2 separate regions of the Homo sapiens genome follow, and region 2 is linked to region 1. The links come from fine-mapping of genetic effects on gene expression. A gene starts in region 1. The other region holds a variant in brackets. All regions are shown on one strand. Distances are between the middles of the regions.

Evidence for each region. PIP is the estimated chance that this variant, and not a neighbour inherited with it, causes the effect. A credible set is the group of variants that fine-mapping cannot tell apart.
Region 2: its variant is the best candidate, but not a certain one, in a credible set for the expression of MKLN1 in whole blood (INTERVAL, PIP 0.84).

The regions. Positions count from the first base shown.
Region 1 is chr7:131,324,940-131,330,321 of GRCh38, forward strand. MKLN1 (muskelin 1) reads left to right here and starts at 2,937. Exons shown (of 18, transcript NM_013255.5): 1 at 2,937-3,058. The coding sequence starts at 2,961. It overlaps MKLN1-AS (MKLN1 antisense RNA), which reads right to left and starts at 2,840. Exons shown (of 6, transcript NR_125364.1): 1 at 2,676-2,840; 2 at 1,867-1,996. RefSeq lists enhancers at 2,702-3,278, 2,973-3,272, 3,279-3,855 and a silencer at 2,763-2,922.
Region 2 is chr7:131,479,076-131,484,457 of GRCh38, forward strand. The region is part of intron 17 of MKLN1 (muskelin 1); the gene reads left to right. Among named protein-coding and RNA genes, the nearest start is that of PODXL, 75 kb to the right of the region's middle. The variant C/T (reference allele first, on the strand shown) is at 1,985.

The DNA.
Region 1 (5,382 bases):
TATAAAATTTGTGATGCAGGAAAGCCATGCTATCCTGGGTCTTTACCTTCTGAGTAGCAATTATACCTCAGGGATACACGTTTGTAGTCTGAGAAGTGCTGGCATTTTTTTTTTCCTTTGCAACTCAGAAGTCTCTAATTAAAGTTCTCTTTTAGCATTATTCATTCACTCTTTGATAAATATTTACTGAACATCTTTATTTGCTAGACACATCAACAGGACTGAGGATACAACTGTGAACAAGATATGTATGACTCTTATCTTCATGGGAGCTATCATTTAGAGAGAAAGAAAGGGGAAAAAAGAGAAAATTAAAATATATTGTGATGTGTGCTAAGATAAAGAGGGAAACTTAGAGTGCTAAGAGAAATGTAAAAAATGTTACCTATCCTGTGTTAGCTTGCATAGGAAAAAAAAAATGAAGAAAACTGTCACCTAATCCCAGAGCAGGTGTTGAAGAAAGATTTTCGGCCAGACGCAGTGGCTCATACCTGTAATCCCAGCACTTTGGGAGGCCAGGCCGAGGCAGGAGGATCGCTTGAGCCCAGGAGTTCAAGACCAGCCTGGGCAACAGAGTGAAACCCTGTGTCTACAAAAAAATTTAAAAAGTAGCTTGGTGTGGTGATGTCTGCCTGTGGTCCCACCTACATGGGAGGCTGAGGCAGCATGATCCTTTAAACCCAGGAGGTCAAGGCTGCAGTGAGTCATGTTCATGTGACTGCACTCCATCCTGGGTGACAGAGTCAGAGTGAGATTCTGTCTCAAAAAAAAAAAACCAAAAAAATTTCCAGGACCAAACAGTCTACAGGATGAGCTGGAGTTAGCCAGGTAAAGAATGGGAAAGAATATTCCATGCCTGGCTTAGAGCAAGCTCCGGAGGCTAGAGAGAACAAGGACTCTATGGGAACAAATTCAGTGTGCTAGTTAGTGGGCAGATGTCAAAAGCGCAAAGGAGAAAAGTGGGGGGGGGGTGGTGGTGAGGAAGCTGGAGAGAAAAATCAAGGCAGGTTATGAAGGGCCTCTGTTAAACAGTTTAGAAGGGTATTGAAAGTCACCAAAAGGATTTAAGCTTAAGAAGAACTAATTAACATGTGTTTTTAAAAAAGATTGCTCAGGAACTATGTCTGGAAAAGAACAAGGACTTGACTTACATTAAGGTAAGAAGTGGAATTATAAAATCTGGGGCCCAAAGGAATTGGAGTGAGTTAATTCCTCCCCTTTAAAGTGTCTATTTTCTTCAAAGATAACCACTATATCATCTCTGGGGCTAACATTCTCTGGCCCTTTCCCACTGTCTCTGGCAGCTCCCGACCCAAGTCACTACAGTTACAGCATTCCCTTAAGGAACACATGCTTTTCCAACCTGCTGCAACACAGAAAGCACATGTAATTTTTTATTTTATTGTATTTTATTTGTTTTTCTGAGACAGAATTTCACTCTGTTGCCCAGGCTGGAGTGCAGTGGTGTGATCTTGGCTCACTGCAACCTCTGCCTCCTGGGTTCAAGTGATTCTTGTGCCTCGGCCTCCCAAGTAGCTGAGATTATAGGTGTATGTCACCACACGCAGCTAACTTTTGTATTTTTAGTAGAGACGGGGTTTCACCATGTTGGCCACGCTGGTTTCGAACTCCTGACCTCAGGTGATCCACCCACCTCAGCCTCCCAACGTGCTGGGATTACAGGTGTGAGCCACCGTGCCGGGCCTGGCCTTTCTATCTGGCTTTTTTGATTTGATATCCTAGTAGAGCCCACTATTAAAATTTCCATCTATAGAAACAGGAAGTCAGGAAAGGACTGGAGGGAATTTCGGCAGGTTAATGATTACAACGGGAAGAGAATACAATTATTGAGGTGTTTTGACTCACTTGGTCATTTCCTGAGAAACTCTTTGCTTGAATTTTTCCACTCTTCAGGTGAAGATGATGACACTGTCCAGGCTTTCAGGAGTCCAACCTCTTAGACAATAAGCGACATACTCTTTGGTAACTGCAGTGGCTAAGCCAAGGAATAAATATGCATAACTACAACAAACAGGTACTTGATGAGAACGTTATCTAGAGCTGCCAGATAATTTAGACCAAGTGCACCTTTTGTTGTAAGAAGCTGGTATGATGTCCACATAGTTTTCAGGGCTGCTGTTCCCTCTAAGAAGAAGGAATAGTCTTTTTCCTGAACTACTCTCTCTCTGAACTTTTAGGCTACAATTATGTCAGTTCAAAGTGGGCAGATTTGCCAACTGAAAAAATGATGACACGCAGCTTCCCAACTCTGTAAGGACTTTTCAGGTCTGTGGGTGAACGTCATTCCCGAGCAAACCAATGCCACAAGATTAGTAGGATGCGGCTCACAAGAAATGTTTACAATGAAGGGCATCACAGACTGCAAACCAAACAGGGTAGGAGGACACGGGACCATTTCCTTTTCCTGTCTCCATCTGACTCTGGAAGGCGGGGACAAGACATTTAAAACCAGGACCACTCCAGGAGGACAGCACATTAGCTACTGCCCTCCAGCTCCCTTCAGTGTTGTTTCCGTAAAGGACTTATAAACTGGCGAGGGCGGTGGCTTCCAAAAGCGCACAGGCGTCCCTTTTCCAACTTGGTCTTCTTATTTTCCCTTCCTGCTCCATAACTACAACGTGTTTCTGTTCGTAATCATCTCGGCTTTTCCTTACCTCTGCTTGTAAGAAAAGTCCTTTGCGCCATTCCCCTCCAAGCCCCAGGGAAGGGCCTGGAAAGCGCTTACACCTCAGACCCAGTGTCGGTCAGCCGTCAAGGAGCGAGCGACGTGGGAAACCCTGAGATAGGACATTGGCCCGGCGCTGGGCTCGGGTAACGATGCGGGGCGGGGAGCGCGGGCGGCCGGGGAGGGCGGCGGCCCCTTTAAGAGCAGGCCACGCCCCCTCCCCTCCTCCCGTTCGCTGCCAGCGGTCGGTGGCGGCCGCTACGGTGCTGACAAGATGGCGGCTGGCGGAGCTGTCGCTGCGGCGCCCGAGTGCCGGCTTCTCCCCTACGCGCTACACAAGTGGAGCTCCTTTTCCTCCACCTACCTTCCCGAGTAAGTGCCGGGCCTTGAGCTCGTGCTGCCCCACCCTTCCGCGTCAGCACGGTTGGGCCAGGGGTGCAATGGAGGGCAGCCGAGCCGAGAGGCCCAGGCGGGGCCTGCTGAGGGGGACGTGCGGCCTCCGGAGTCTTAGTTCAGCTGCTGAGAGCGTTGCTCGGCCTCGCTCGGGAAGGGGTTAGGGTCCGGAGAGCGAGCCCAGGGAGAAGGGGCGAGGTGTGTGGCGGATCCGGGGCGCGCACAGGAGAACCGGAAGCCCAGCGGTTCTGCGCTTGGGATTTGGGGGTTGAGGTTGAGGAGGGCTTGGGGGGCGGACGGCTCTGGGGCAGGAATCGGAGTTGGCGGGGCCCTGCCCGCGGGCAAACTACCCCGAATGTCTGAGGTCGTCCGAGGTGGTCGGCGTCGGGGGACAGTTCAGTCGATTGCTGCCGGGACAAAGTGTAAAGCCGAGGAGTGTCTATTCCAGAGTGGGGTCATTAAAAGTGATTAGCTCTAGAGTAGTGTTAAAAGTCACGGAAGGCTGAAAAGTTGTGGAATCCATCTGAATCCTAGCAGGCGGGGAGAACTTGTAGGATTGGCAGACGTTGTCTTTAATGCCTGGAAGTTCTGAAAAAGATAGGGAGTGGGAAGGAGGGACGTTACCGAAGAATTTCAGTATTACGGCTCATTAGAAGATGGGTTTGTATGGACACAGACACGTTTCCCAGTCCGGAAACTCAAACATAGAAACATCTGGCTTTAATGAATTTGATTTTCAACACCGGCTTTGTCTTGATCCCTGATTTAGGTGTTAAAAAAATTCAGTTGCATTGTTAGGTTTTTGTTGGTGGTGTTTTTTTCTCTAGCAAATTCCTTCTGAAATGCTGAAAATACTCTTACATAGTATCTTATTTATCTTTGGCTTATCTTTGAAAGGAGGAGCAGATCTAACTCCAATTTTACATGCTAGTGGAGGAACTGGCTTAGTAAAGGGTTAAGATCTGTGCAGATCCTGAAGAAAAGTGCTAGTTGTCCCTCTAACCATCTCACAGGACCGAAACGATTTTATGAACGAAACAAATTAATGAATAATATATTTTACTGAGTATTTTACTAAACAAAAAAGTGACTAGATCTGTGAAGCATACTCAAGTAAGTTTTCCATCTGTATTTGAGAAATTCTTCACATTTATCCAAATTTGATTTCACTGGTTATATCAATGAAGAATCTCAAAATGGAGCTGCAACTGGAAGAATCTGTCATGACTGCCAGCCTCCCATTTTATTCACCAGGTCAAGGGTTGGCATTCAGTAGGATCTGGCCCAATGAAGGGTGCCAAGTGACCTGTGGTTTGATCTGGCCTGCGTAGCCTATTCATGGCCATATCCCTGATTGATGCTGAAACCCAACTTTGAATTTGAGAGTGAGCCAGATAAACAGTCCAGCCATGTAGTTGGAGTTGAAATGTGGCCCTATGTACTTGACCTCTGATATTCTGGGCTATCTTGTTCTTGGATCTGAAGTTATTCAGCTTTTTTCTATACCCAGGCTAGGATTATGGACAGTTGGGAATTGGTGTGGCATTGTTTGATCTAACTGTAGAGACATTTTTCTGGTCTTGAATTAGCGTATTTCCAGGACGTCACTCCTTAAATTTTTGATGTAGGCCTGAGGCTTGGATAACACAAGTACCATCCGCGTTATCTGTTGTATAGACATTTTAAGAAAGTACATTTCAAGCAGGAAATGATTTAGTGGGATGGCAACTTTAATCTTTTGTGTCTTGTTACTCTGGCCCCTGGTTTGCAGTGGGCAGAACACTAGTTTTGGAGTTAGAAAGCAACAATTTGAGATTGGAGAAATACATTGCTGCAATTTTCTCAAGTACATACATAAAATAGTATTTAATACATACGTAACTTTCATACACTTCCACTTACTATATCTTGTTTAATCCTTATGACATTCTATTGACAAATGCAGTATAATTTGTATTTAAAGTAAAGTATTAGAAGAGTAATCTAAGCTTTTTTCTTTGAAGGAGTATAGTTGAGTATTATGGAGCTGGAGTTGGAGAATATTGTGTCTGCTGGGTTGGTGTGTGCCATGCCTAAATTATAAAACTCTTGGCTCTGAACTTCTATAAGCAAGCAAGGATATTACTTCTCTGTGTGACAGAAGATGTAGGAAAGGGGTTGACTTTACTTACCTTTGCCCTAAAATCCCCTCTAGCAGCAATTGTTGTATCTTTACTGGCAGTGGAAACCATATTAAGGTACTTCTTAAACAGGTCTCATTTTAGGTTAAAGACATTTGTTGAAATTGTCCACAAAGTGGCAAA
Region 2 (5,382 bases), 150 kb after region 1:
GGGGTAGGCAATGTTTTGGGAGCACAGAAGATAGATTATCTCTTTCCTGAAAATGGGAGTTTTGTTATCTTAATTGTTCAAGATAACTTCTGGTTGAAACTCAAGTTTTTCTCAAACACTTTAGTCTTAATTTAGTAATACTCTCTTTTAGTATTAATGAATTATTAACTAGACTGTAGGCCGGGCACAGTGGCTCACACCTATAATCGTAGCACTTTGGGATGCTGATGTTTGAGCCCACCAGGAGTTTGAGCCAAGCCTGGGCAACATAGTAAGACCTCGTCTCTACAAAAAAAAATTTTTAATTAGCCAGGTGTAGTGGTGTGCGCCCATAGTCCTAGCTACCTAGGAGGTTGAAGTGGGAGGATCACTTGAGCCCAGGAGGTAGAGGCTGCAGTCAGCCAAGATCATGCCACTGCACTCCAGCCTGGGTGACAGAGAGAAAGACTGTCTTTAAAAATAAAAAATAGGCCGGGCGTGGTGGCTCATGCCTGTAATCCCAGCACTTTGGGAGGCTGAGGCAGGAGGATCACGAGGTCAGGAGATCGAGACCATCCTGGCTAACACAGTGAAACCCCATCTCTACTAAAAATACCAAAAAATTAGCAGGGTGTGGTGGCGGGCGCCTGTAGTCCCAGCTACTCAGGAGGCTGAGGCAGGAGAATGGCGGTAACCCAGGAGGCAGAGCTCGCAGTGAGCCGAGATTGCGCCACTGCACTCCAGCCTGGGCGACAGAGTGAGACTCCGTCTCAAAAAATAATAATAATAATAAATTTAAATAAATAAATAAATAAATAAATCAGCCGGGCACGGTGGCTCACGCCTGTAATCCCAACTACTCGGGAGGCTGAGGCAGAATTGCTTGAACCCAGGAGGGGGAGGTTGCAGTGAGCCAAGATCGTGCCATTGCACTCCAGCCTGGGCGACAGAGGAAGACTCCATCTCAAAAAAAAAAAAAAAAAAAAATACCAAGACTGTAATAAAGTGGGTGGTCTCTAGAACCCAGACCTTTACTTGGGTGAATTTTCAAGGGCATTTTCATCAGGATAACTTATGATAGCTTCATTTTTTACCAAGATAATCGTCTTGAAGTATGGAAATTCCCAGCTTTCCTCTGGTCAGTGAATGCATATTAATCCCATTGATGCTGGTGCAGTTATTATTTGCCTTAGAGTTGAGCAATAGTATTGAAATTTTCCATTGTATGTAATATAAATACTATTTTTTATGTTTGGAATAAAATAACACTTTGGGATATCAATTTAGTTTCTTCATTATTTGACCTTTTATCTCTTGAAAGTGAACTGTACCTCAAAGAAAAAAGAGTATATATAATTCTGGTGCTTTTCACTGGGATGAAAAAATAGAGGTGTTCTTGAGGTCTTGCCCTTTATCCATAGCGAGTGATTGAGGCTTCTCGACTGATCAAGGCAACTCCAGTCCTAAGTTCTAACTCCAGAATATGTAGGATTCCTCAGGACTAGACTGAGCAGACTGCTATAAACGTGACTCCAGAAGGTTCTCCTAAGAATTTAGATAATGATTTACCACTATTCATACACTCGAGTTGAAGACCTTAGGCTACTAGAAATCCCCAGTCTGTGAGCTGGAGAACCTAGGTGTAAACATTATTTTGGAAAGTTCATGCCCTTCTGAATTCTAGCATTTGAAACAGATGTACTGATACATGAATTGGGGGTCTGGCATATATTCTGTTTAAATGATTATGTGCCTTATGTCTGATACCACAGCCCAGGCCCATTATTTTATTTATTAGTGCATAGCACTAAACTATCTCTAACTGACTTATTTTTAGCCTTTAGAACAAGAATTTCTTGGCAGCAATTTAAATATATCAATTAGGGTGGTGTCAGCAAATATTTTACCTTCAGCTTAACTCCTTTCTTTTGACTCTGACCTATTCACTGCCAACTAATATATTTTGTCAGGAATAGTTTGTTTTATTTGGATTCTAAACAAACCT[C/T]AGATATACTGAGAACAATACAAACACAAAAAGAGAAAAATACAAGCAGGGGAAATTCCTGTGGGATGTTGTTTCCTGTCTTGTCTGAGGGGAGGTATTATATAGCCTAGTGATTAGGAGGTTGGAATGTGAGATGGTGGTTGAGAGTCAGGATCTCTTTTAAAAGTGATCTTGAGCAAGTTATTTAAACTTTCTAATTATCAGTTTCTTTATCTGTAAAATGGAGGTAATGGGAATACTTACCTCAAATTGCTGAGAGAATTAAATGAAATAATTCTGCAAGATAGTTATCACAGTAAAGCAGTAAATGCTCCATTCAGGGTACCATTACTATTGACTGCCTTAAAAATTTAATCTTCTAGCCAGGTGCGATAACTCATGCTTGTAATCTCAACACTTTTGGAGGCCGAGGTGAGATGATCATCTTGAGCCCGAGAGTTCAAGATTAACCAGAGTAACATAGCAGGATCTTGTCTCTATTTTTTTAAAAAAGTCACCTTTGTAACACTGGTGAATTTGGATAAGGAGCAAATTCAGATTGTATGCTAATTTTAATAATGAGAAATTTGATTTAGTATTTATAAACAAGAAGTACTTTTCATAAGGTTTCATGCCTATTTAGAGTTCCTGGTTCTTGTTCTTATTAATTTTCTGTCAGACTGTTCTATCTTTGTGCCAATTAGAATAGAAATAAAATGGGTTATTTACTGTACCTTTCATTGTATAAATGAATATTTCATTTTCTAAGGTCTGCAAAAAAAAAAAAAAAAAAACCTCAGCCGAACTTTCTGAATGACTTCCTCCAGAAATAATCCAATTTATGTTCATCCCTTAGTGAGAATTAAATAAAAGTATTAATATTGTATGTAAAATTTTAAAGAATCAGAAAGATGGAAGGTGACATTATCTTAGTTTTGGAAAAATGAGTGATCTCGGAGAAAATCTCCAAGGATCTTGATTTTAGAGCTTCTGGTGGCTATAGGCACTTTTAAGGTTGAACTCAGTCACTTTGCTAAGTTTAAGAGCTATATCTTATTTCTAGAAAGTATGAATTGGAGCAATTAAACTTATTTTCAGCAGGGTATGTGACAAGTAGGAAAAATCTGGTCTGTAAAGCATGTTGCCTATTTATTTATTTATTCATTCATTCATTCAGACAGGATCTTGCTCTGATACTTAGGCTGGAGTGCAGTGGTGCAGTCATGGCTCACTGCAGCCTGGACTTCCTGGGCTCAAGCAATCCTTCTGCCTCAGCCTCCCGAGTAGCTGGGACTGCTGGCATGCACAACCATGCTGAGCTAATTTTTTTTTCCTTTTTTACATTTTTTGTAGAGATGAGATCTCACTGTATTGCCCAGGTTTGTCCTTTTTTGGTCCTCACAACTCTTTTTAGAAGTTTACAGTCCAAATATAAAGTTTAGTGTTAGAAATAAGAAGTGTACATTTAATAATGTGTATGCTAGGAAAAAAATGAGAATTCATGTTATTTCTCCTTTACCACAAGTAGGAAAATCCAGCTACGTGTAGGATGTTAAGTTAAAAGTATATTCCTAGCCAGGCATGGTGGTGTGAGATGGAAGAATCTCTTGAGCCCAGGAGTTTGAATCCAGCCTGGGCAATGTAGCAAGACTCCATCTCTAAAAACAAAAAATTACTCCTAATAGGTCACTTTCTTTTTAGAGCAGTCATTGTCATCAGTCATACTACTAGTGATATGCTGATAGCTAATTAATATTTATTGAGCACTTACTGTGGGGCCAAGTGCTCTTCTAAGCACTTTGCATGTCTTAACGCATGATTATCCCCACAGTAGCCCTATGAAGTAGCTACTGTATGATCCCCTTTTGTATATGAAGAAACTAGGTTACAGAGAGGCTAAACTAACTTGCCCAGGCATAGTGCTAGTGAATGGCAAACCAGGATTAAAACCCTGTCAGTATGGCTTCAGAGCGCCTTTTCTAAACCACTAAATATGCTACCTCTCACTGAGCTTTACCAGTTTCCACTGCTCAAATGGTTACTTCCTCTTTCCATTTTACTTTATTTATGAAAATAAAGTAAGATAAACATAGTGATTAGGAGCATGAGGTTTAGAATCAATATCATCACCTTTTTGTCCTAGCAGTGCCATTTAAGTAGTTGTGGTACTGTTGATGAGTTTCCTAGATCCCCACCCCTTTTTAATTTATTTTTAGAAAAAAACATTGATTACATATAAAGCTTAGAATTCTCCTTAAACAACTTTCCTCAATCTCTGTATTTTACCCTCAAGTATAATCACTTATACGTAATACATCTTTACACACACACAACCATATACACAGACATAGATGCAGTTGGTTCTCATTATTCAAAGAGTACAGAGTTAGGTTCCTACAAGCCTCTGGTCACAACATTTTATCTACTGATTAATATATAACCACGTATTATGTGTGTTTCTGTTTAAAGATTCCTCATTTAATATATATTGTTGATTCACTAACATTAAGTTCATGGTCAACATCACTCTAACTCATACCTGAACCAAGCTTATCTAATGTGCATATTTTTCCCCATAAGGCCTTTTTGCACTTAGGAATGCCAGACAGCACTTTGGCACTACATTTGGGGGCCATTTTAAACAGTGAAGCCACCAAAAACACAAAAATGTGGCACCAAACAGATGGTGAAAGGGCTGTTGTGGATAGTAAGAGCTGAAACTAGAAAGCAGCAGAGATCACAGAGTTCAGCTTCAGCTGGGGACGTGTGCATATGGTAACTCAAATATTTTGCCACTTTGCACATGTCTGCAATGACCACAGAAATACCACAAGTATTGGTTTGGGGGTTACACATGAATTTTAGCAAACAGGCAAATTCACAAATATGGAATCTGTAAATGATCAAGATCAACTGTATATACGCATGCATACACTCATATAAATATATAGGTTTGTATGGGCTGTTTTAATTTATTATATAATGTAAAAACATATTCTGCAGCATAGTTTTTTTAAGTTAATGATGTGGCTTGTAGACGTTTTTATGAAGCTACACTAGATCAGTTGTATTCTTATGAAGTGATACATAATTATTCATAATAGGGATCTACCATAATTTAACCATTCGTCTAATGATAGTGTAAGTTTCAATTTCCTCATAGGTAAATAGTAAATAAAAATAAAAGATGTGCCTTTGAGAGTTAAATGAGCTTAGTACATTGCCCTACAACTTAAGCACTTAATGAGTGTGAGTTAATAAAAATTAAAGGGCTTTGGAGTCAGACAGACATGGGTTCCACATTCCATCTCTTCCCTCCCTAGCTGTGAGACTTCACTGAATTACTGAATCTCTTTCTGTGTAAAAGAGGTAGATGAAGAACAAAAATAGTAATAACCTTAAGATTATTGAATCTCTCT